Linked DNA regions of Homo sapiens: region 2 is linked to region 1. Evidence: fine-mapped expression QTL. A gene starts in region 1. The other region holds a variant in brackets. All regions are shown on one strand. Distances are from middle to middle.

The links. PIP is the estimated chance that this variant, and not a neighbour inherited with it, causes the effect.
Region 2: its variant is fine-mapped to the expression of RBFOX2 in subcutaneous fat (GTEx, PIP above 0.99). The same link has a PIP of 0.9 or more in tibial nerve.

What each region holds. Positions count from the first base shown.
Region 1 is chr22:36,022,716-36,034,587 of GRCh38, reverse strand. It overlaps RBFOX2 (RNA binding fox-1 homolog 2), which reads left to right and starts at 5,764. Exons shown (of 14, transcript NM_001349999.2): 1 at 5,764-6,348. The coding sequence starts at 6,163. RefSeq lists a silencer at 5,529-5,598.
Region 2 is chr22:35,642,122-35,653,993 of GRCh38, reverse strand. APOL6 (apolipoprotein L6) reads right to left here and starts at 5,548. Exons shown (of 3, transcript NM_030641.4): 1 at 5,371-5,548. RefSeq lists an enhancer at 5,544-5,843. The variant G/A (reference allele first, on the strand shown) is at 7,055.

The DNA.
Region 1 (11,872 bases):
CAGAGTTTCCCTCTTGTTGCCCAGGCTGGAATGCAGTGGCACAATCTCAGCTCGCTGCAACCTTTGTCTCCCGGGTTCAAGCGATTTTCCTGCCTCAACCTCCCAAGTAGCTGGGATTACAGGCATACAGCACCACGCCTGGATAATTTTTTGTATTTAGTAGAGACAGGGTTTCACCATGGTCAGGCTGGTCTCGAACTCCTGACCTCTGGTAATCCACCCGCCTCAGCCTCCCAAAGTGCTGGGATTACAGGCGTGACCCACCATGCCCAGCGGTTTTGTCTTATTAACTAGGAAGGAATGCTATCTTCCACCCACATCTCGCTGGCTAGGATGGTGTTACGTGGCCACCCTTAGCTTTCAGGGAACCAGAGAATTTTTTTTTTTTTTTAATTGCTAAGCAGATTTCTGTCCTGAACAAAATTGGGGTTCTGCTAGGATGGAGTAAGAGGAGAATGGATATTGGGTTGGTAACTACCAGTGCCTGTCACATAAATGAAGAAACCAGGCCTCAGAGATGCTAAGGTCTTGTCCAAGGTAAGATATATGGCAAAGTCAGACTCAGACCCATGTCAGTTTGACATCAGAGTCTATGTTCTTGGCCACTGTGAGAGATGACTCCCTTATCATAATGCATTGCAATTGTCTTTGGATTTGTTCATCTCTTCCTCCCTAGATTGTGAGCTCTTTGGGACTAAGAATAATTTTTTTTTTGTCATCTTGGTATTCCAGACACTTGCCCATAATTTGTTGAATGAATAAGTGAATAAATGTTAGAACTGCAACAGTTTCTGCAGCTAAAAATTCTTTCTAGGAAAATATTTTTATTTATTTATTTTTTAGACAGAGTCTCACTCTGTCACCCAGTCTGGAGTACAGTGGCATGATCTCAGCTCACTGCAACCTCTGTCCTCCTGAGTTCAAGCTATTCTCCTGCCTCAGCCTCCTGAGTAACTGGGATTACAAGTGCACGGCACCACACCCAGCTAATTTTTGTATTTTTTAGTAGAGACGGGGTTTTGCCATGTTGGCCAGGCTGGTCTCGAACTCCTGAGCTCAGGTGATCTGCCTGCCTCGGCCTCCCAAAGTGCTGGGATTACAGGCATGAGCCAGTGACCGAAAATATTTAATGTCCTCTTCCTCTGTAATGTTTCCTAACTACCTGCTTCTAAACAAATGGCTGCAGATGTATATAAAAGAAATGATCGGCCGGGCACGGTGGCTCACGCCTGTAATCCCAGCATTTGGGGAGGCCGAGGCGGGCGGATCATGAGGTCAGGAGATCAAGACCATCCTGGCTAACATGGTGAAACCCTGTCTCTACTAAAAATACAAAAAATTAGCCGGGTGTGGTGGTAGACGCCTGTAGTCCCAGCTACTCGGGAGGCTGAGGCAGGAGAACGGCGTGAACCCGAGAGGCGGAGCTTGCAGTCAGCCAAGATTGCACCACTGCACTCCAGCCTGCGCAACGGAGCAAGACTCTGTCTCAAAAAAAAAAAAAAAAGAAAAAAAAAAGAAAAGAAATGATCTGGTCTTTGTGCTGCCATGGATGCATTTTGCCTCTTCTATGATTTGTAGGCGTTTAACTCTCCTCTTTCTCCTTAAATACATAATGCTTGTTTCCAGGGCAGGGTCCAATTTTTCTTTGTTCTGCCTGGTCATTCAGACATTTCTATACTGCATTGCTCTGTTTCTAAGGGACTTGAGCGTTACCTGAATAACAAAAATTTGAGTCACTGGCAGCCCCGATCTCAAATCTCATTTCTTGCTGGGTCAGGGGACAGCCCAGGAAGATCTAACATCATTAAGATTTCAGTAGTTTGGCAAGGCAAGCAGGGAAGGGAGAATTCTCTTTTTTTGGAGAGAGAGTCTCACTCTGTAGCCCAGGCTGGAATGCAGTGGCGCGATATCGGCTCACTGCAACCTCTGCCTTCCAGATTCAAGCAATTCTACTGGCTCAGCCTCTTGAGTAGCTGGGATTACAGGCAGCTGTCACCACACCTGGCTAAATTTTTTGTATTTTTAGTAGAAATGGGGTTTCACCATTTTGCCCAGTCTGGTCTTGAACTCCTGACCTCAAGTGATCTGCCCGCTTCGGCCTCCTAAAGTGCTGGGATTACAGGTGTGAGCCACCATGCCCAGTTGGGAAGGGAGAATTCTTATGCTACCAGTTCAATAAGTAAAAATTTCAGAAGACCAACTGCTGATGTCCCTAGGTTAAAGAAAAAAAAAAAAAAGACAAAACCCGCTGTTGTTTCATAGGCCACCAGGAAATATCCTGGTTATCCCTCAAAGCCATACTGCTTGGTTGAACAGGATCAGGTTGTGGGGTACTGCCAAGTGGAAACCGCTGACTTAGGTTGGGGCTAATTCAGCACAAGAACAAGCTTGTAGGCACTTGGACTTCCACCTTGGTGGTCCAAATAATAATACTAAGAGATGTGTCAGGGCTGGGCGTGGTGGCTCACGCCTGTAATCCCAGCACTTTGGGAGGCTGAGGCGGGAGGATCAGTTGAGGCCAAGAGTTTGAGACCAGCCTGACCAACATGGTGAAACCCTGTCTCTGCTAAAAATACACAAAGTTAGCTGGGCATGGTGGTGCGTGACTCTAATCCCAGCTACTTGGCAGGCTGAGGCAGGAGAATCGCTTGAATCTGGGAGGCGGGGGTTGCAGTGAGCTGAGATTGGGCCACTGCACTCCAGCCTGGGAGACAGTGAGATCCTGTCTCAAAAAAAAGAAGAAGAAGAAGAAGAAAGAAGAAGAAAGAAGAAAGAAGAAAGAAGAAAGAAGAAAGAAGAAAGAAGAAGAAGAAGAAGAAGTTGTTTAAGGCTTCTCTTTCCAAGGCCCCTGGTTAAGCTTACTGTATCACTAACCAAATTAGTTGATGAATAATTACCACCTATTAAGCAGTTACTATGTTAGGCACTGTGCTAAGTGTTTACTTTTGTCCCATTTAATCCTTAGAACAACACTGTGACTATTATTGTTATCCTACAAATGAGGAATGGAAGGCTTAGTGAAACAAAGTAATTTGCCCAGCATAGTGGTTGCACCAAGGGGTTACTGGGGTGCTTTGCTTGCCGCATGTGAATCTCTAGCAGCCCCACTCAAGTCACCTTACATAATTAAAAAAAACCCAATAATAATGATAATGATATTCTTTGATCTTGACAATGAATGTTTTTTCACTCTCATTTAAAATGTGAATAAAGGTCAGGCCTGGTGGTTCATGCCTGTAATCCCAGTACTTCGGGAGGCCAAAGGGGGGGAATCACTTGAGGTCAGGAGTTCGAGACCAGCCTGGCCAACATGGTGAAACCCTGTCTCTACTAAAAATACAAAAAATTAGCCGGGCGTGGTGGTGGGCGCCTGTAATCACAGCTCCTTGGGAAGTTGAGGCACAAGAATTGCTTGAACCCAGGAGGTGGAGGTTGCAGTGAGCCGAGATCACACCACTGCACTCCAGTCTGGGTGACAGAGCGAGACTCCATCTGAAAAAAAAAAAGTGAATAAAGTGATAATGGTACTACTAATAAGCTATTATTAGTTAGCTATAAGTGTTAGCTGTAACACTTATGGAGCGCTTATCCTAAATCATTCCGTTCAAAGTTCTAAACGTGATAACATTAAATTCTTACAATAATCTTTTCAGGAAGGTATTATTGTTATCCTAATTTGCAGATGAAGAAACTGAGACACAGAGGGGGTAAGTAGCTGTCACAAGGCATCATGACTTGCAGGTGGCAGAGCTAAAACTCTGCTATTTTTACTGATTTATAACACAGCCTAAGTAATACAAACAATATGCTCAATACAACAACTCACCTTCAAGGCAAGTCCTCCCGACTTCCCTTCCAACCAGTCTGCAATCCCCAAACACCTTTTATATGGAAGTTCTTAGTCACCACTGGTCCCAGATTACGTGGGCAGGAGGTGGGAAGCCTGCGTTCTCATCTGGGTTGGTCTGACTCTGAAGCAGGGATCTTTACTGTTGTACTGTTCCAGCCCCAGCCAGGTTAAACCCAGGTTCAAAGGCCAAATCACACACTGGTTGGAAATGACCTTGGAAATCATCTAACCCAGCGTTTCTCAACCTCCGCACTATTGACATTTGGGGTTGGATAACTCTCCTGGGGGGACCGTCCTGTGCATGATAGGATGTCAAGCAACATTCCTGGCTTCTACACACTAGATGCCAGCAGCACCTCCCCACTGTAACAATCAAAAATGCCTTCAGTCGGCCAGGCGCGGCAGCTAACTCCTGTAATCTCAGCACTTTGGGAGGCCGAGGCAGGCGGATCACCTGAAGTCAGGAGTTCGAGACCAGCCTGGCCAACATGGTGAAACCCCATCTCTACTAAAAATACAAAAATTAGTTGGTGGCGCACACCTGTAGTCCCAGCTACTGGGGAGGCTGAGGCAGGAGAATCGCTTGAACCCAGGAGGCAGAGGTTGCAGTCAGCCGAGATCGCGCCACTGCACTTAAGCCTGGGCGACAGAGCGAGACTCTGTCTCAAAAAAAAAAAAAAAAAAAAAAAAAAAAATGCCTTCAGTCACTGACAAATGTGGGAGTGGAGGTGGTGGAATGGCAAAATTTCTCCTTGGTTGAAAGCCACTGATCCAAACCATCTCATTTTACAAATGATGGAGCTGAGGTCCAAAGAGATGAAGTAACTTGTTTAAGCTAGTTAGCAAAGCCAAGATTAGAATCCAGGTTATTCACGCAATATCCTTTTATTTCTATAACGTACAGGGCACGATATGGAACTCAGAGGAAGTCACTGCAGTCCTTGTCCTCACAGTCTGGTAGGGGAGAGAATCTATTGCACAGATATCTCTATCTCCACGAAGTTGGTAAGTCATAAAGTGCTCCTCAGGCAGCAAGGTACGAAGAAAGAGAATATGTTCTCGTGTTCTGAATTCCGGATCTGCCACTTTTTTGCTGCAGGATTTAACTAAGGTTCAGTTTCATCATCAATGAAATGGAGATCATGGTATCTACTTATATCACCAGTTTGAAACGGGTCTGTGGATGCATTGTGCAAACTCTAAAGCTCTTACAAACATCGGGTATTATTACTAACTTCATTAGGAATGTGAGTTATATTAGAGTAAAAGCTCTCAGAACTGGGGTGAACCATAGAGGGGTGGCTTCATTCCTCGACCTTCCAATTTGAGACATTTTTTCTTCTGCGGGAGGGGAAGCAGGCAAATAGCCTGCCTCTCACAGAGTGCCCATTCCCTCTCCGGGAACCAAGGTGCTCAGGCGAGTAAACTCAGGACTTAACTCTGTACAACTAGTACCGCAAGCAGGAGCCACTCCCTGGCCTTCGGGTCTCTCAAGCCCCGCCTGCTCCAGGATACGGCCCCGCCCAGAAAGGAGACAGACCCCGCCCCCCCCGCGCTGCCCCGCACTCCAGCCGCGCTGTGCCTCCAGGACAATCCCAGGCCCGTGCCGGAGATTCCCGAGCTTCCCCGATCGCTTCCCGGCCTCCCTCGGGCAGCCAGCGAGGAGACTACGGAGATTGCCGAGGGGGCCTGGCCCCGCCCCCCCCGCGGGCCGCCACCGCCCCCCTCGCCGTAGCCTCCCGCGCGGGCTGGAGTTCTACATCCCGGTCCCTCCCTCCCTCCCTCTTTCTCTCTCCCCGCCTTCCCGGTGCTGCCACAGTGGCGGGTCGGAGGATCCCGGCCAGTCAGCTCGTTCCTGCCTCGCGCCCCTCCTCCCCCCAAAATAAACAGCCCTCCCCACGCCTCGGGAGCCCGGACCGCCCCCTTCCTCCCTCGGCCGGCGTGCTGTGAGGGAGAGTGTGAGCCAGCGCGGCCGGTGGGCGAGCTCCGGGAGTGCGAGAGGCGGGGCGGCGCGGCGGGCCGGGCCGGGTTTCGCGTGTGCGTGCGGGGGCGCGAGCGAGTGCTCATCACGACCCGCCAGTGGCCCCGCGCCGACAACCCGGCGGGCGGGCGGGCGGGGAGCAAGCGGTCAGGCAAGGAGCGGCGGCCGCGAGGCGCGGAGGGGCGCGGAGTCCGCTCGCGCGCACGCACGCACGCACGCGGGGGCGGGGGCAGGCGCGCGCCCGCCTGTCGCGACAGTCGGGGCCGAGGCCCAGGGGGAGGTGGCCTGTCGCGGGTCGCCCGGCTCCCGGAGGCGAGGGGGGCGCGGGCGGATGGCGGAGGGCGCCCAGCCGCATCAGCCGCCTCAGCTCGGGCCCGGCGCCGCCGCCCGGGGCATGAAGCGGGAGTCGGAGCTGGAGCTGCCGGTGCCCGGAGCGGGAGGAGACGGAGCCGATCCCGGCCTGAGCAAGCGGCCGCGCACTGAGGAGGCGGCGGCCGACGGTGGCGGCGGGATGCAGGTGACCGCGCGGGACGGGGCGCCCAGTTATTGCGGGGGTGGGCGTGAGGGTCGACACCGGGCTCCCCGGCTTGGAGAGAGGGAGGGCCTCCGGGAGTCCTGGGTTGGAGGTGGGATGGGGGGCCATTCGGGGCCTGGTTGGAAGGTGGGGCGAGCTCGGGCTAGGAACGAAGGTTGCAGGACTGAACCTGGTGTGCCCGAGAGGGTCCTGATTCCTGAGGGGCCAGGAGGCACGACGAGTGGATAGGTTTTGGGGGGAAATCGAACAAGGTTGAGATGGATTCCATTTTTTCAAATCCTTCCTTAGTGCCTTGGGGTGGAGTGGAAGCCGGGAAATCCTGGCTTCTCTGGACTGAGTCGAGGAAAAGGAGATCTGGTGGGAAACCTCCCGAGAAGAGGGAGTACCTTTTGGCAGCCCTGGGCACACGCTGGGATGGGGAAGAGAAGTGGCATTTCAATGAGAGGAGTGAAAAGAAAACTCCTCGAGAGAGCCCCGAGGGGATGTGGCTGAGATTGTGGGTTAAATCACACAGAGTGTGAGAAGTACAAGGAGTTTGGTAATGTTATGGGGACACGGTGGTGCTCAGTCTCATTTACTTTGTGGAGCATACTAATGAGTCTGAAGGGAGACACTAGACATGTCCCTCCTGTTCTTTGCCAATTGCATTCTACATCACCAGGACACAAAATAGCTCTTTAATGTCCCGGGCTATAAAAAAAATTTTTTTATAGGGCTATTAGAAGACTGGATTCTCAATTCTGGATTGAAAGATAAACGTGGTTAATTTGGGTAGGGAATGGGAAAGGTATTGATGTCAGCTGACTTCATAGTTTTGAAGAAGACCTTGAAACCTTTGGAGGTTTTACGATTTGGTCTTTGCCCAGAAAATACTGCTATGACATGATGAGTCTCACCTACCAACAGTTGTGCAGACTTGTGCCTAATTCTCTCGGAGTCATAGGATGTTAGAGGGATGCTAGGAGGACTAGACATCATCTTTTCCAGGGGTTCTTAACCTGGGAAGACTTGGAAGATTCTTACTCATAGTAGGTGATGTGCACTTTTTGGTGGAGGAGAGTCAATAGTTTTCATCTTTGTTTTTTTTGGAGGAGATTCAAGTCCCAGCTTGTTTTAACCACCTTATTTTATAGATGGGGAATCAGAAGTCCAGAGAAGATGGTGACTTGGGTAAGGCCACCCAGTTAGCTAATAGTAAAACTAGAACTAGAAGCCTGGTCTTCTAATTCCTATTCCTGTGCTGTCTCCATTACACCACTCTTGGAAATCTCTGCAGTGCTAAAAGACTTCCTGTGCTCTGCTCCCTGCTTTTCAAGCCTCTGCCTGACTTCCTGTGTTAGGGACAGAGCTGTACTTAAGCCTAGCATGTTTGTTGTATGCTTCTTGGTCTCCTTTGCAGAGTTTACCCTGTTACTTCTGTTGATTTAGGTAAAGTGACCCTCTTGGTGTTTATTTTTGAATTCTTTTGTTTTGTTTGCCTGCTTTTATTTTCCATTAGAACTCTGTCAGGCAGAGGGATTGTGAGAAGTAAAAGCTCAGGGCCATGGCAAAAAAGACAGGAATGTGGGAGACTTCAGGTGAGGTGAGCTAATATTGGATGATAAGGAGGGAAGACTGGATGTAGGTGCTGGTGAGCAGGTTCTACTTGGTGTGTGTGTGTGTGTGTGTGTGTGTGTGTGTATGTATTCATTTATCATTTCTGTCAATCCTAGTTAATAGTGAGACCCCCGTCCCTTTCCCTCATTTACTCCTGGGGCCTATTATCTGTTGGTTGCCTTCAAACTGGCTAAAGATAGTGATATTTGGAAATGGAGCAGTGTGTAGGGACTTCGCAGGGGTGTGCAGAGGAAAGAGTGGTTAGGTCCTTGGGGGTACAAATTGGCAGCTGAGAGTTATCCCTCCGAGAATCCTTTTTTCACTTCTTGTATTTTATTTTCTTTCTATACATTCTCTTTTTTTTTTTTTTGCCCAGGCTGGAGTGCAATGGCACGATCTCGGCTCACTGCAACCTCCACCTCCACCTCCACCTCTGGGTTCAAGGGATTCTCCTGCCTCAGCTTCCTGAGTAGATGGGATTACAGGCGTCTGCCACCATGCCCAGCTAATTTTTCTTATTTTTAGTAGAGAGGGGGTTTCACCAGGTTGGCCAGGCTGGTCTCGAACTCCTGACCTCAGGTGATTCACCCACCTCAGCCTCCCAAAATGTTGGGATTACAGGTGTGAGCCACCACACCCGGCCTTCTATACATTCCCATTGTTGTAGGTCCATTCCCCTATGTCATACAGGTATTCAAATCATTGATTTAGGCCCTGCCTTCAACTAGCTGAATGGTTCTGCAGAAATCTTTCATTTTGGGGCCTCTGTTTTCCTTAGTTGTAAAATAAAGTATGTGTACAAGATGATTTCCCTTGTAATCCACCCACCTCGGCCTCCCAAAGTGCTGGGATTACAGGTGTGAGGCACCGCACCCGGCCAAGTTCTAAGTTACCTTCTAAAAGTTATAAGTCCAGTTCACTGTCCTTAAGGTGCATGCAATCTATGTGGGGAGACAAATGGGCGAAAAGTTTTTTTTAAAGAAGCGTGCATTTTTAAAGAAGTGTGAGAGTATTACATGAATATACTTAATGTTTATTCATTGAACTAACATTTATTAAGCAGCTGCTACATCCCAGGCACTGTTTTAACCCTAAGAGATATAATAGTGAACAACAACAACAAAAAACCCTTGCTGTCATGGAACTAATATTGAATGGAAAGAGACATCTAATAAATCAACAACTATAATTGTGTGGTGATAAGGGCTAAAAAGAAAAAGCAGGGAAAGGGAGAGATGGAAAGGGAGAGAATGAAGATGGTTACGGAAGGGCTTTAAGATAGATGGCCTATGAGTGAAGTGAGGTAATGGGCCATTCAGATGCTTTCGGAAAGAGGGTTCAGGTAGAGGAGGTGAGGGTGCACAGGCATTGAGAAAGACTGCTTGGTTTGTTTGGAAACAGGAGACCAATGTATTAATAGCTGGAGCAGAGAGAGCAAGGGCAGGTAGTCTTAGGAGATGGTATCAGTGGTTTAGAAATATCTATAGGCCCTATGTAAATACACACTTTAAAAATCTTAGCCGGGCGCAGTGGCTCACGCCTGTAATCCCAGCACTTTGGGAGACTGAGGCGGGTGGATCGCCTGAGATCAGGAGTTCGAGACCAGCCTGGCCAACATAGTGAAACCCGTCTCTACTAAAAATACAAAAAATTAGCCAGGCGTGGTGGCAGGCGCCTGTAATCCCAGCTACTAGGGAGGCTGAGGCAGGAGAATCACTTGAACTCGGGAGGCGGAGGTTGCAGTTAGCTGAGGTTGCGCCATTGCACTCCAGGCTGGGCAACAAGAGCGAAAATCTGTCTCAAAAAAATAAAAAAAATCTTATCGTAGCCAGTGTTTTGGGTATGTGGGTTTGTCTTAAAGTACACGTCTTTTTTTTCTTTTTTTTTGAGATGGAGTCTCACTGTTGCCCAGGCTGGAGTGCAGTGGCTTGATCTCAGCTCACTGCAACCTCTGCCTCCTGGGTTCAAGCAATTCTTATGCCTCAGCCTCCTGAGTAGCTGGGATTACAGGCATGTGCCACCACACCCCGCTAATTTTTGTATTTATAGTAGAGATGAGGTTTCACCATGTTGGCCAGGCTGGTCTCGAACTCCTGACCTCAGGTGATCGCCTGCGTTGGCCTCCCAAAGTGCTGAGATTACAGGCATGAGCCACTGCACCTGGCCTGTTTTCTTAACACGTTTTCTAACTCCTTTTGTGAAGCCTTCCCTGACAGCTTAGTTCACACCATTCCGATCCTACTCTTGCCTCTTGGTATATTGATGCTTAATTGTGTGTCATCTTTTATTGTCCCTTAATTGTTTTATTATTCTTGTTTCACTGCTAAGATTGTAAGCTTCTAAAAGATAGGAACTATATTTCCTTTGTATTTATCCTTCGTAATACCTAACAGTTTTGGGTACTTGGTAAGTGCTCAATGCCTGTTAAATTGAAATTGAAATTTACCTTTTACAGATAGTTAAGGATTAAGAAAAATTGTGAAATTCCAGAGTGAGGGTATCATCACAGAATTTTCCAGGCACTTTGAATGTCAAAGGATTAACCGCTTTTTATAGAATAAGTTCATTTACTGGGGTCATTCCCAAGGCTGCTTACTAAATGGAGCTGTAGTGCTAAGCGTTAGATTCCAAAGTTGAATCTTGTTAAGTTGTACCACTAAGCTTTTGGAGTAAATCATCACTTACCAAAATGGAGTTTAGGAAACGCCAGAGAGTCTGTGATGCTTTTGTTATAATCCTTAGGCTCAGAAGGAACCCTAGGAGAAAGAGAGGAAGGGTCGGTGCTTTCAAAGGCAGTATACAGAAACTTGATGTAGGTGGAAGAGGAGTCAGTGCAGCCCTGGAAAGAGTACAGAAATAGAGAAACGTGAACCAGAGAGTAGGAGGGAAGTGACAAACTCAACTGGAAAGCTGATGTACAGTTTGAGAAATGTAGTTAAAGAGAGTACTTGGAAATACTGTACTCAAAGTTTGTGGGAAGTTAAATGAGTTAAATATAGGGCTATTAGAGGTTCATTTCACTTTAAGTTTAATATGTATGAAATTTACGCTCTATACAATGTAGTGGGGAATGAATTCTTTTGGTCAGCTTTTCTAGTGAACAATTTGATTCATAAAAATTTTATTTTTGTGCAGTTTTCTAAGAGTTTAGCTGCTGTATAAGGTAAGATGTACCTTATTACTTATAGCTTTCAGCAGAATTCTTTGTGTCAGTGAAATGTTGATATGGTATAATTATTATATGGCCAAGTAACCGCTTCTCACCATAGAGTCATAAATCCAGTTTAGCCAAGTGGGTTCAGCAGTTATTCCTATTAGCAGCTGATTCTAGTAGTAAGATGACTTTCTTTCAGGTTTCAGGGAAGGGGTTCCAGATAGCCTGAAGTTGCTTTGTAGATGCTGTGTTTATTGAAGTAGTTTATCTTCCCATTTGCTTATTTATGGGCTTATTTCCTCATAGGTGGATGTCTCTTTGTGCCCTCATTTGGTATTTGGTGCTGAAACTAAGCATGGTGCTACCATTCAAGAAGAGTTATAAAAATATTGTGTTTTTTTTTTCTTGCAAGTAATTTCATGAACAATATTTCACTGAAATTACTGAATTTTTCATCTCTCCCTGTCCCAGTGTCCTTGGGCTGCCACAGCAAAATACCATAGACTGGGTGGCTTAAACAACAGACATTTATTTCTCACAGTTTTGGAGGCTGGGAAGTCCAAGATGAAGGTGCCAGCAGATTTCATGTCTGGTGAGGGCCCACCTTCTGGCTTGTGGATAGCTGTCTTCTTGCTGTGTGTTCACATGGCCTTTCCTTTGTCTGTGCCCTGGGGGAGAGAGAGTCAGTGGTCTCTTCCTCTTCTTATAAGGGCACTCATTTATCATGTAGTTCCCACCCTCATGACCCAATCTGAA
Region 2 (11,872 bases), 380 kb after region 1:
GCAAGCTGTTCTAGCAAATTATTGAAACTGAGGAGGGAGTTGTGGAAACCTTCCATGTGTCACCAAGTTGGACAAAAGTTGTGGGCAACCTGGGGACCCACCACTTACAACTGGTGTCTGAAGTAGGGGCAGTCTTATGGGACTGAGCCCTTAACCTGGGGGATCTGATAGTATCTCCAAGGAGATAGTGTCAGAATTGAGTTAAACTGTAGGATGCCAAGTTTGTTCTCATAAAGAAGTGGAGAATTGCTTGGTGTAGGGAAAAAAACTCACATATTTTGGTGACCAGAAGAAGGTAAATTGGTGTGAGTATTGAGGGTAGTAGTAGAGTTCAGCCTCCTTCCTTCACCTCTCTCGCACACGCCCTCTTGCCCTTCTGCCTTCTGCCTTCTGTCATGGGATAACACAGCAAGAAGGTCCTTGCCACGTATCTCAAAATAATAAGAGCTATCTATGACAAACCCACAGCCAATATCATACTGAATGGGCAAAAACTGGAAGCATTCCCTTTGAAAACTGGCACAAGACAGGGATGCCCTCTCTCACCACTCCTATTCAACATAGCGTTGGAAGTTCTTGCCAGGGCAATCAGGCAGGAGAAAGAAATAAAGGGCATTCAATTAGGAAAAGAGGAAGTCAAATTGTCCCTGTTTGCAGATGACATGATTGTATATCTAGAAAACCCCATTGTCTCAGCCCAAAATCTCCTTAAGCTGATAGGCAACTTCAGCAAAGTCTCGGGATACAAAATCAATGTGCAAAAATCACAAGCATTCTTACACACCAATAACAGACAAACAGAGAGCCAAATCATGAGTGAACTCCCATTCACAATTGCTTCAAAGAGAATAAAATACCTAGGAATCCAACTTACAAGGGATGTGAAGGACTTCTTCAAGGAGAACTACAAACCACTGCTCAATGAAACAAAAGAGGATACAAACAAATGGAAGAACATTCCATGCTCATGGGTAGGAAGAATCAATATCATGAAAATGGCCATACTGCCCAAGGTAATTTATAGATTCAATGCCATCCCCATCAAGCTACCAATGACTTTCTTCACAGAATTGGAAAAAACTACTTTAAAGTTCATATGGAACCAAAAAAGAGCCCACATTGCCAAGTCAATCCTAAGCCAAAAGAACAAAGCTGGAGACATCACGCTACCTGACTTCAAACTATACTACAAGGCTACAGTAACCAAAACAGCATGGTACTGGTACCAAAACAGAGATATAGACCAATGGAACAGAACAGAGCCCTCAGAAATAATGCCGCATATCTACAACTATCTGATCTTTGACAAACCTGACAAAAACAAGAAATGGGGAAATGATTCCCTGTTTAATAAATGGTGCTGGGAAAACTGGCTAGCCACACGCAGAAAGCTGAAACTGGATCCCTTCCTTACACCTTATACAAAAATTAATTCAAGATGGATTAAAGACTTAAATGTTAGACCTAAAACCATAAAAACCCTAGAAGAAAACCTAGGCAATATCATTCAGGACATAGGCATGGGCAAGGACTTCATGTCTAAAACACCAAAAGCAACGGCAACAAAAGCCAAAATTGACAAAGGGATCTCATTAAACTAAAGAGTTTCTGCACAGCAAAAGAAACTACCATCAGAGCGAACAGGCAACCTACAGAATGGGAGAAAATTTTTGCAATCTACTCATCTGACAAAGGGCTAATATCCAGAATCTACATGAACTCAAACAAATTTACAAGAAAAAAACAAACAACTCCATCAAAAAGTGGGCGAAGGATATGAACAGACACTTCTCAAAACAAGACATTTATGCAGCCAAAAGACACATGAAAAAATGCTCATCATCACTGGCCATCAGAGAAATGCAAATCAAAACCACAATGAGATACCATCTCACACCAGTTAGAATGGCGATCATTAAAAAGTCAGCAAACAACAGGTGCTGGAGAGGATGTGGAGAAATAGGAACACTTTTACACTGTTGGTTGGACTGTAAACTAGCTCAACCATTGTGGAAGTCAGTGTGGCGATTCCTCAGGGATCTAGAACTAGAAATACCATTTGACCCAGCCATCCCATTACTGGGTATATACTCAAAGGATTATAAAACATGCTTCTATAAAAACACATGCACACATATGTTTATTGCGGCACTATTCACAATAGCAAAGACTTGGAACCAAGCCAAATGTCCAACAATGCTAGACTGGATTAAGAAAATGTGGCACATATACACCATGGAATACTATGCAGCCATAAAAAAGGATGAGTTCGTGTCCTTTGTAGGGACATGGATGAAGCTGGAAACCATCATTCTCAGCAAACTATCGCAAGGACAAAAAACCAAACACCGCATGTTCTCACTCCTAGGTGGGAATTGAACAATGAGAACACATGGACACAGGAAGGGGAACGTCACACACCGGGGCCTGTTGTGGGGTGGGGGGAGTGGGGAGGGATAGCATTAGGAGTTATACCTAATGTTAAATGATGAGTTAATGGGTGCAGCACACCAACATGGCACATGTATACATTTCTCCGGGTGAAATTATCCTGGATTCAGGGTGGCCCTGAAATCCATCACTGATGTCATTATAAGAAGAGGAGGTGACAGAGAGAGACACAGCAAAGAAGGCTGCACGCAGACAGAGGCAGAAATTAGAGTCGTGCTGTCAGAAGCCACCGAGGCTGCAAAAGGCACAGATGGTCTCCCTGGAGCCTGCAGCAGAAGTGCGCCCTACTGGCACTGGGATTTTTGACTTCCAGCCTCCAGAACTGTGAGACACTAAATGTCTGTTGTTTGAAGCCACCTGGTTTGTGGTGCTTTCTGACAGCAGCCCTAGGGAAGCCAATACATTCCTTTGCATCTCTTCTCTACATTTGGTACTTGGTCCAGCGCTTACGGCAGAAATGCTGTTTCCTAGATATAGCTTCTCCCTCAGCTCATCCTCCCTTCTCTCATCCTCTTCCCTTCCACTTCTAAAAAGTTAGAAAAAAACATCCTCCCTCACACACTCTGAAGGGACACAAATTCTTTATTTTTAAAAAAATTTTTTTTTTTTTTTGAGACTGAATTTTGCTCTTGTTGCCCGGGCTGGAGTACAATGGCATGATCTTGGCTCACTGCAACCTCCACCTCCCAGATTCAAGCGATTCTCCTGCTTCAGCCTACCAAGTAGCTGGGATTACAGGCACGTACTAACACACCCGGCTAATTTTTGTATTTTTAGTAGAGATGGGGTTTCACAAGGTTGGCCAGGCTGGTCTTGAACTCCTGACCTCAGGTGATCCACCCACCTCGGGCTCCCAAAGTGCTGGGATTACAGGCATGAGCCACCATGCCCAGCCCAGGACACAAATTTTTATAGCCATTCATTTATAGCCATTCATTCATTCATTCACTTATAGCCATGAATACAAGTTTAAGGTTGAAAATTTAGAAATAAATTATAAAATCCACCTTACGCTCACCATATGGAAATGCATGCTGTTCATGTAGTTTGTGTGAATTCTTGTCACCTAACATTGTATCTTAGTAGTTCCCCAGGCGATACATAGAAGCCATGTCGCATTTCATTTTACGAATGTATCATTACACATTCAATAACTCTCTCACTGTTGAACCTTTGGGTTGTTTTCAGTTATTTTAAAATTTTGTATTTATAATTTTTGGTTAAAATCCTTATATAGACGTCTGTCTACATGTTTGGTTATTTCTTTGGGGTAGTCTATGAAAAAGAATGAATGCTTCAAAGATAAAAACCTTCTCCCCTCTTTGGTATGTGAAGCTAGGTTTGGTTTAGGGGGCTTGGCACCTTTAAGAGTTTACTTTCACCAGACATACATCTACCTGCTTTACACAGTGACCCAGTGAGATCGGTGCTAAGATGATGCCCATTTTACAGAGGTGCAAACTGAGACATAGGGAGGCCAGTGTCACACAGTAAGCAGGAAAGCCTGTGCAATTCCAGCCACGCAGAGTCTGGAGTAGTTGGTCCCAAACAGGGCGTGTTTGCTCCTCAGGGACACTGCTAATATCTGGAAACATTTTTGATGGTCTCAGCTGGAGAGGGTACTGCTGTTGGTATGTAGAGGGCAGAGGCCAGGGATGCTGCCAAGCACCCTACGATGCAGAGGACAGCCCCCACAACCAGGGATCACCTGGTTGAACATGACAAGGTTGCTGGGGGTAAGAGACTCTGGTCTGGAACCCCATTTTTTACCAGCGTCCGCCAATACCTCTCTCATTTTTTTACATTAGTCCTATGGGATGCAGGGCAAAGGTAACAGCAGGAAACTCATCTAAGCAGGTCCCATTCCATCCCCTCTGACCTGCTCTTGGTGGTTGCGAGAGGATTTGCTTGTGAGAGGTTTATTGGAAGAGGATTTGAGAACTTACTTTCATTTGAAAGCTTACAGGATATTTATGACAGTCTTTCCTTACCTGCCTTCCCCCACAAAACCAACTTCTGCAGATACACAATCTAAGTAAGAAAAATCTGCTTACTTTGAAAACACAGCTTCAAGATAACCTCCCTAGATTTTTTTTTTTTTTTTTGAGACCGGGTCTCACTCTGTTGCCCAGGCTGGAGTGCAGTGGTGCGATCACTGCTCACTGCATTCTTGACTTCCTGGGTTCAAGTGATCCTTCCACCTCAGCACCCTCCCAAGTAGCTGGGACTACAGGTGTGCACCATCACGCCCAGCTATTTTTTGATTTTTTGTAGAGACGGGGTCTCACTATGTTGCCCATGCTGGTCTCAAACTCTTGGGCTCAAGCAATCCGCTTGCCTTAGCCTCCCAAAATGCTGGGATTACAGGCATGAGCCACTGCGCCTGGCCTAGTCGCCCTAATATTTATCACAAACTCCCTCACCCTCTTCCCCAAACAACTTCACATAAATCTACAATCTAGAAAACTCTGTAGGTTGGCTTTGCAGTTTCTAGACAACTCACCCAGCACCTTTTTTCTTGTGAGATGACACCCCTAAACCACTCCTCTACTGAATTTCTAGGGAAACGCCTGTGGCTGATGTAATCATCTGCTTTCTAAGGGCCAGGTCCCCTCTGCCTAAGCCCTCGGATCCCCAGCAGTGGAGGGACAAATGCAACTTGGCTAGTCACATCGCATGCTTTAGCATGTTTCAATTTAACCCTGAAATGGCTGTAAGGGAGGGAAACCTACCAGGATTAACACAGGAGAAGTTAATCCTCAGACTCTCCTCAAGCTCTGGCTGGCATTTGAACCCCGCTGCTTTCACAGCAGCTCTTTTCCCTGAGTCAGGTGCCTAAAGCCAACCCCTTGGGGGCTCTGTCCTTCAGGGACCAGAGCGGCAGCCCCCTCCTCCCCCGACTTCTGCCCGCCGTCTCACCTTCTCTCCACGGAGCTCTCCTTTGTGGCCTTGGGTCCCGAGGGAGAGGAAGATCCTGAACCTCTGTCCTTGCCTCTCCGAGGTCCCCTGGTCTGGCAGGGGGCTGTGAGTGTCTGGGCTGGAGAAAGACGGATAGGAAGAGTAGGGTGGCCTTTGAACAGGAATTGATTGCAAAACTGGTTTCGGTTAAGTGCTGCAGGAGAGAAAAAGCAAAGCTCTAGGGCTCTTCCAGGAAATCATGGGCTCCAGCTGTCACTTTCAGTTTCCTTTTTGCCAGTTTCTCTAATTGGATGAACAAGGAGGTGAAAGAGCAGAATCCAAGTCAGGAGGCCTGAGTCTCTCGTCTCTGTCCTGGCTGTGTTATAGGATGGACCTATATGGGGTATGAAAATAGCTCCTGTGGCTTAGAGCTATGGTGAGGAGCCCATGAGCAAGCGATGGGGCGCCTGTTGAATAGTGGATTCACAGTAGCTGTCATCACTGATTGTTCTGAAACTGCTTTCCTCCACAGCATCTTACGTGACGCTGATGTGGGTAACAACCCTATGAGGTGCACAGCATTAAAGGGCTAATAACTCTGAATGCAGAATCCTCTGAAAATGGAAACTTTATTTTATTATTATTATTATTATTGTTTTTTGAGATGAAGTCTCGCTCTGTTGCCCAGGCTGGAGTGCAATGGCACGATCTCGGCTCACTGCAACCTCCGCCTCCTACGTTCAAGCTATTCCCCTGTCTCAGCCTCCCTAGTAGCTGAGATTACAGGCACCTGCCACCACGCCCGGCTGATTTTTGTATTTTTAGTAGAGATGGGGTTTTGCCATGTTGGCCAGGCTGGTCTCAAACTGCTGACCTCAAATGATCCATCCATCTAGGCCTCCCAAAGTGCTGGGATTACAGGCGTGAGCCACCGCACCTGGCCTCAGAATGAAAACTTAAAAAAAAATGATAATTTATTCATTTAGTGGCAAAACCTGACCTGATCTGGCATGAATTCACCTGTGGTTTTTATGTCTCCTGCTTAATTTGAATATTTACAGTCACTGCAGAAATATTAATATGTTTGACTGAGGAGGGCTGCTGCGGGTGCGTGGGTTACATAGTACACGATACCTGCACCCCATTACCTTTCTAAAAATCCCCCAAATCAGGAACTCTGACATGCATCTGGCCTCAAGGATTGGAGATATAGGATTGTGATACTCTGTCTCCCACTTTAAGGAAGAGGAAACCCAGGCTTCTAGAAGTTGTGGGTTGTTTGTGATTACACAGCTAAGAACCAGTCCTAGGCTCTGTGTCTACAAGAATGAGCCCACAGTGAGGTTACGGGCTGAGATCTGTGTCTCTCTAGCATTTGTGTCAAATTGTGATCAGAAGCCATGTGGTTTGTTTGTATTTATATGCCCAGAAGTCCCCAGTCACCACCCCTAGCTGAGACCACATTGGAGGCTGTTGCTTTGCAGAAGGTGCGGCCCACCTAGCCAGTCCTGGCTTTGCTGTGATAGAGGCCACCTCCTGTCCCTGGGCCCTACGAGCAGGAATGAGGGGTTAAGGGCTGCTGAGTTGGGTCTTGTAGGGGCCTTTCCAACCGTGGCATCCCGGATTCCACAACCCACCCCTGCTCCTGGCCTCCCACACTTGGGGAACACGCTAAACACAGCCTGACCTTGAGGAGGACTTGGCT[G/A]CCTGGCTGGGGCCGCTGAGCCATCCCAGGCCTGCCTGTTGTTTTCCCTGGCAACGGACCCAGATGTTGTGGTCACTGCTCGGTCCTGGGAGTCTCAGGGGCCAGACCGGCCATTGGATGGGGGCAGTGTTTACCACCAGGGCTCTTGTGAAACAATCGCCCCAAGAGATGCCATGTGAGAAAAATGTTCTGTAGCCAAATGCAGGAAGTGCTGCTTATGTAAGGGGACAGAAAACATCCACCCTATAGCTCAGATGAACAAAAGTAGGGAGTCGCTTAATTTCCTAGAGTCCACTTCCCTTCCCTCAAGGGACCCAAGACCTGCTGAAAAGAAACAAACTTGCCTGAAGGCCCCTTAGTCTCTTGTGATTTAAAACACACTCTCGGACCGGGCGCGGTGGCTCACGCCTGTAATGCCAGCACTTTGGGAGGCTGAGGCAGGTGGATCGCTTGAGGTCAGGAGTTTGAGGCCAGCCTGACCAACATGGTGAAACCCTGTCTCTACTAAAAATACAAAAATTAGCTATGTGTGGTGGCGGGCACCTGTAATCCCAGCTACTCGGGAGGCTGAGGCAGGAGAATCGCTTGAACCTGGGAGGTGGAGGTTGCAGTGAGCCGAGATTGTGCCACTGCACTCCAGCCTGGGCGACAGAGCGAGACTCTGTCTCAAAAAAACAAACAAACAAACACACACACACACACACACACACACACATCTTTGGGTAAAGTCTCTCATTTGGGGGTGAATGTTCAGGCAATTTAAGTTCAAATTTTCTATCAGGGCTTTTTATGTTTTCTGAAAAGTTTGCCTCTCATTGAGGCTGCAGTGAGCTGAGATTGCACCACTGCACTCCAGTCTGGGTGACAGAGCAAGACCCTGTCTCAAAAAAAAAAAAAAAAAAAAAGAAAGAAATTTGCATGCCTCGGAGATGGCACCTGGGGGCAGGGGCTTGTGCTGGCCCTCTGGGGTTCCACTGGCCCACAAAGAGGGTCCTTTGTGACCCTTCCAGCAGGCATTGCTGGCTCCTGGACACCTGGGTTCTGGTTTGCCTTGGCACCTCTCTGAGGAGCTGCAGGTTTTCTGTGTTGCAGCCACAACCAACCCACTCTGGGCTCAGGCTGTCTGCCTCCCAGAGAGCTCATCACGCCTCGGCCCAGTGGCCCCTGGCACAGGCAGGGACCATCCGTCCTGGGATGGGGGAAAGGCCTTGAAGCACACTTTGACCCTGAAATTCTTGGATTCTAGAAATTTCTTTTCTTCTCTCTGGCTACAGCATTTAGGGAGAGTTTGAACCTAGGAGGCGGAGGTTGCCTAGAGTTTGAGCAAATGCTGCCCTGAGACTGCAATTTGCCAAATGTAGCAAAAGTTCTATCGTGGCCTCCATTGCTTTGCCTGGAAGCAGTTTCAGGATCCTGGGAGCCCAGGCCAGAGCGAAGCAGGGAAGCAGCCATTACAAGGGGAGAGTGGAGCACTGAACTTGAACCCAGGACCACCAAAAGGGCCAGGCCTCGCATGGCCACACCCTTGTTGCTTGGCGTACAGCAACTAACCCTCACCCACTTCCATCCCATCTCCTTCCCGGGGTTCTTGTGAGGAAGGTTTTTGTTCGTTTGTTTTTTGTTTTGTTTTGTTTTTTTGAGACAGTCTCGCTCTGTCGCCCAGGCTGGAGTGCAGTGGTGCGATCTCGGCTCACTGCAACCTCTGCCTCCTAGGTTCAAGCAATTCTCCTGTCTCAGTCTCCAAGTAGCTGGGATTACAGGCATGTGCTAATACGCCTGGCTAATTTTTGTATTTTCAGTAGAGATGGGGTTTTGCCATGTTGGCCAGGCTGGTCTTGAACTCCTGACCTCAGGTGATTCACCCGCCTTGGCCTCCCAAAGTTCTGGGATTATAGGTGTTAGCTATCATGCCCAGCGGAATGAGTTATCTTGACAATGGTAAAGGTTGATGCACGCACCAGGTGCTCTGGCCATCATTACCATTTTTGTATACACAGGACTCATCTTTTTTTTTTTTTTTTTTTTTTTGAGACAACGTTTCACTCTTGTTGCCCAGGCTGGAGTGCAATGGCACGATATCGGCTCAGTGCAACATCCGCCTCCCTGGTTCAAGCGATTCTCCTGCCTCAGCCTCCTGAGTAGCTGGGATTACAGGCGCCCACCACCACCCCCGGCTATTTTTTTTGTATATTTAGTAGAGACGGGGTTTCACCATGTTGACCAGGCTGGTCTTGAACTTCTGACCTCAGGTGATCCACCCGCCTCGGCCTCCGAAAGTGCTGGGATTACAGGCATGAGTCACCGCGCCCAGCCCCAAGGATTCATCTTTCATGAGAGATCTGAGAGAGCGAGAGAGGGGATGTCTCTTTCTTTCTACCCTGGATTAAAAATGAAGATGTCTGGCATCCTGGGTTGGAGGGATGGGAACTTCCATGTGCAGAATGTTACATGTGGAGCACGTGCTCGGAATATTTCACTCATCATCGCATTTTATCCATATGCTCCTTCTATGAAGCAGGGAGCACAAGCCCAATATATAGCTGCCAAGACTGATGTTCATGGGTCCAAGGACCTCATCCAAGATCACAGTGTCTGACATGACTAGGGTTAGGCGTAGAACCCAAATGTGTCTACCTCCAGTTCTTTGCACTAAAACACATCACAGAAGTCCACATCTCTGCTCTGTGGCTGAATGATCAGTGAGTTTGCAAACTGCTCTCCTTGTGGTAGCCTGGCCAGGGGTGGGGTGGAGGTGGGCAGGGGCTGGAACAGGAGGTACAGGTTGTGCAAGAGGCAAGGTTAGTTGGCATTTTGGTTAGCAGGTTGCAAGTGACACATCATCTTGGAGCAGTGTAAGCAAAAACAAGGAAGCCATTTATCCAGCTTGGTTGTTCTTATACTGCAAGTCACAATTTACAGTGTCATGAAATCAGCTTAGTGGGTCTCAAGAAATAATAAAGGGAAATGAGGTTGGACATGGTGGCTCATGCCTGTAATCCCAGCATTTTAGGAGGCTGAGGCTGGAGGATTGCCTGAGCCTAGGAGTCAGACCAGTTTGGGTAACATGGTGAAACCTTGTCTCCACAAAAAAATGCAAAAATTAGCCGGGTGTGGTGGTGCGCCTATGGTCCTAGAGACTGGTGTGTGTGTTGAGGGGATGGGGGATGGGGGGTGCTGAGGTGGGAGGATCACTTGAGCCCAGGAGGTTGAGCCTGCAGTGAGCTGTGATCGAGATTGTGCCACTGCACTCCAGCCTGGGAGACAGACCATCTCAAAAAAAAAAAAAAAGACAGACAGAAAGAAAGAAAATGAAATGAGATAAAGTAAAAAATATCAGAGTATATCATACATAATAAGGGTATAAGTAGTGTTTCATGGAAATTATGTCCATATAGTGATGATGCACACACTTACGTGTGTGTGTGTGTGTGTGTGTGTGTTATGGATTGCACTGTGAAATGGGTCACAGATAGAATGCTCGAGAGCTACTGACCTGTTCACAGAATCAAAGGAAAACCCAGAAGGTTTCAGGCAGCTCCAGGTTCAGGGACCAGGAGCCCCACTGTAGCTCTCTCGCTGTCTCTCTCTCTCTTTCTCTCTCTCTCTTCCAGCCTCATTCTGTCCCACTACAGGTGGGCTTTTTCCATAACAGAAAGAAGAGAATTTCAAGTCTATTACAATTCATGTCCTTCTAGTTCCTGGATTGGAGATGCAAGAGCATTTTCCCCACCAGATCCAGTAAGAAAATTCTTTGGAAAGGTCTCTCTAGGTTAACCTGTGTTCCATATCCCACTGGTCTCTGTGGCTGGGGTTATTTGGTTCTCTGATCCCTCAGTCCAGGTTACATTACCTCTCCGATAACAAAAGCAGTATTCTAGTATCCAGAAAGTCCTCACTGAGCCATGAGGTTGGAGGGAGGTAAAAAGGGTACCCAATAAAAGGGGTGCTCTTCTGTAGGAGTCAGCTGGCGAATGCCCTCTCTGGGGGAGGGGGTGTCAGGTATTAAAGGGCTGGCTACCTCTGATGTGGCCCAGAGACCCCCGATAGCGTTTTGTGAAGTGGCATGTTCCTGGCAGCTGGTCTTCCAAGGTGGGAGCCTCTGGGTGCCCTGAGTACCCTGGCTTAGCAGCCACTCTGCTCCAGCTAGAAGAATCCATGTTAGGATTTCCTATAACCTCTCTAGGCTTGGGCTTCCCATCACTCCACATGCATCACAGAGAATGGGCCCCTCTGGCAATTGCCCTCCACGACCATCGGGACTCCCTCTTTGCTGGGCTGAAGATGGTGTTATCTCCCCCAGAGGCTTTGTGTCTGTACATAGGGAACTGCTGGACATGCTCCAGGAAGCCTCACTGTGGCCAAGGATGAAAGTCCACAGGCCATCTGAATCTGTGGCTCCAGGAAGCCTTGCTGTGGCCAGGGATGAAAGTCCACCAGGCCACTGAGGAGCAGCAGACCTAGTTCTGCTCCCACTGTGGCTATGGACATGCTGTTTCCCCTGCAAGTGTGGGCAGCTGGGCTCTGGCTGGCTAGCCAGGGATCCCCTGTGACCTCATGATGCTCCAGAAGGGAGTGTCTTCCAGCAGGAGGAGCCTCAGCCTTCAGGAATGAGTGTGGGACAGGGCAGGCTCCCCTTGAAACACCAGGGCCCCTCCCTCTCTAAGCCTCCATTTTCACATCTGCAAAACAAGGGGATCTCCCTGGATAAGTCAAGGTCCTTTTCTTGGCTGTGATCCTATGACCCTTAGAATCTACCATTCTGTGATTCTTGCTGAGATGCTATGATTCAAAGAGTATTTTGCATCTCTGTCGCTTTGT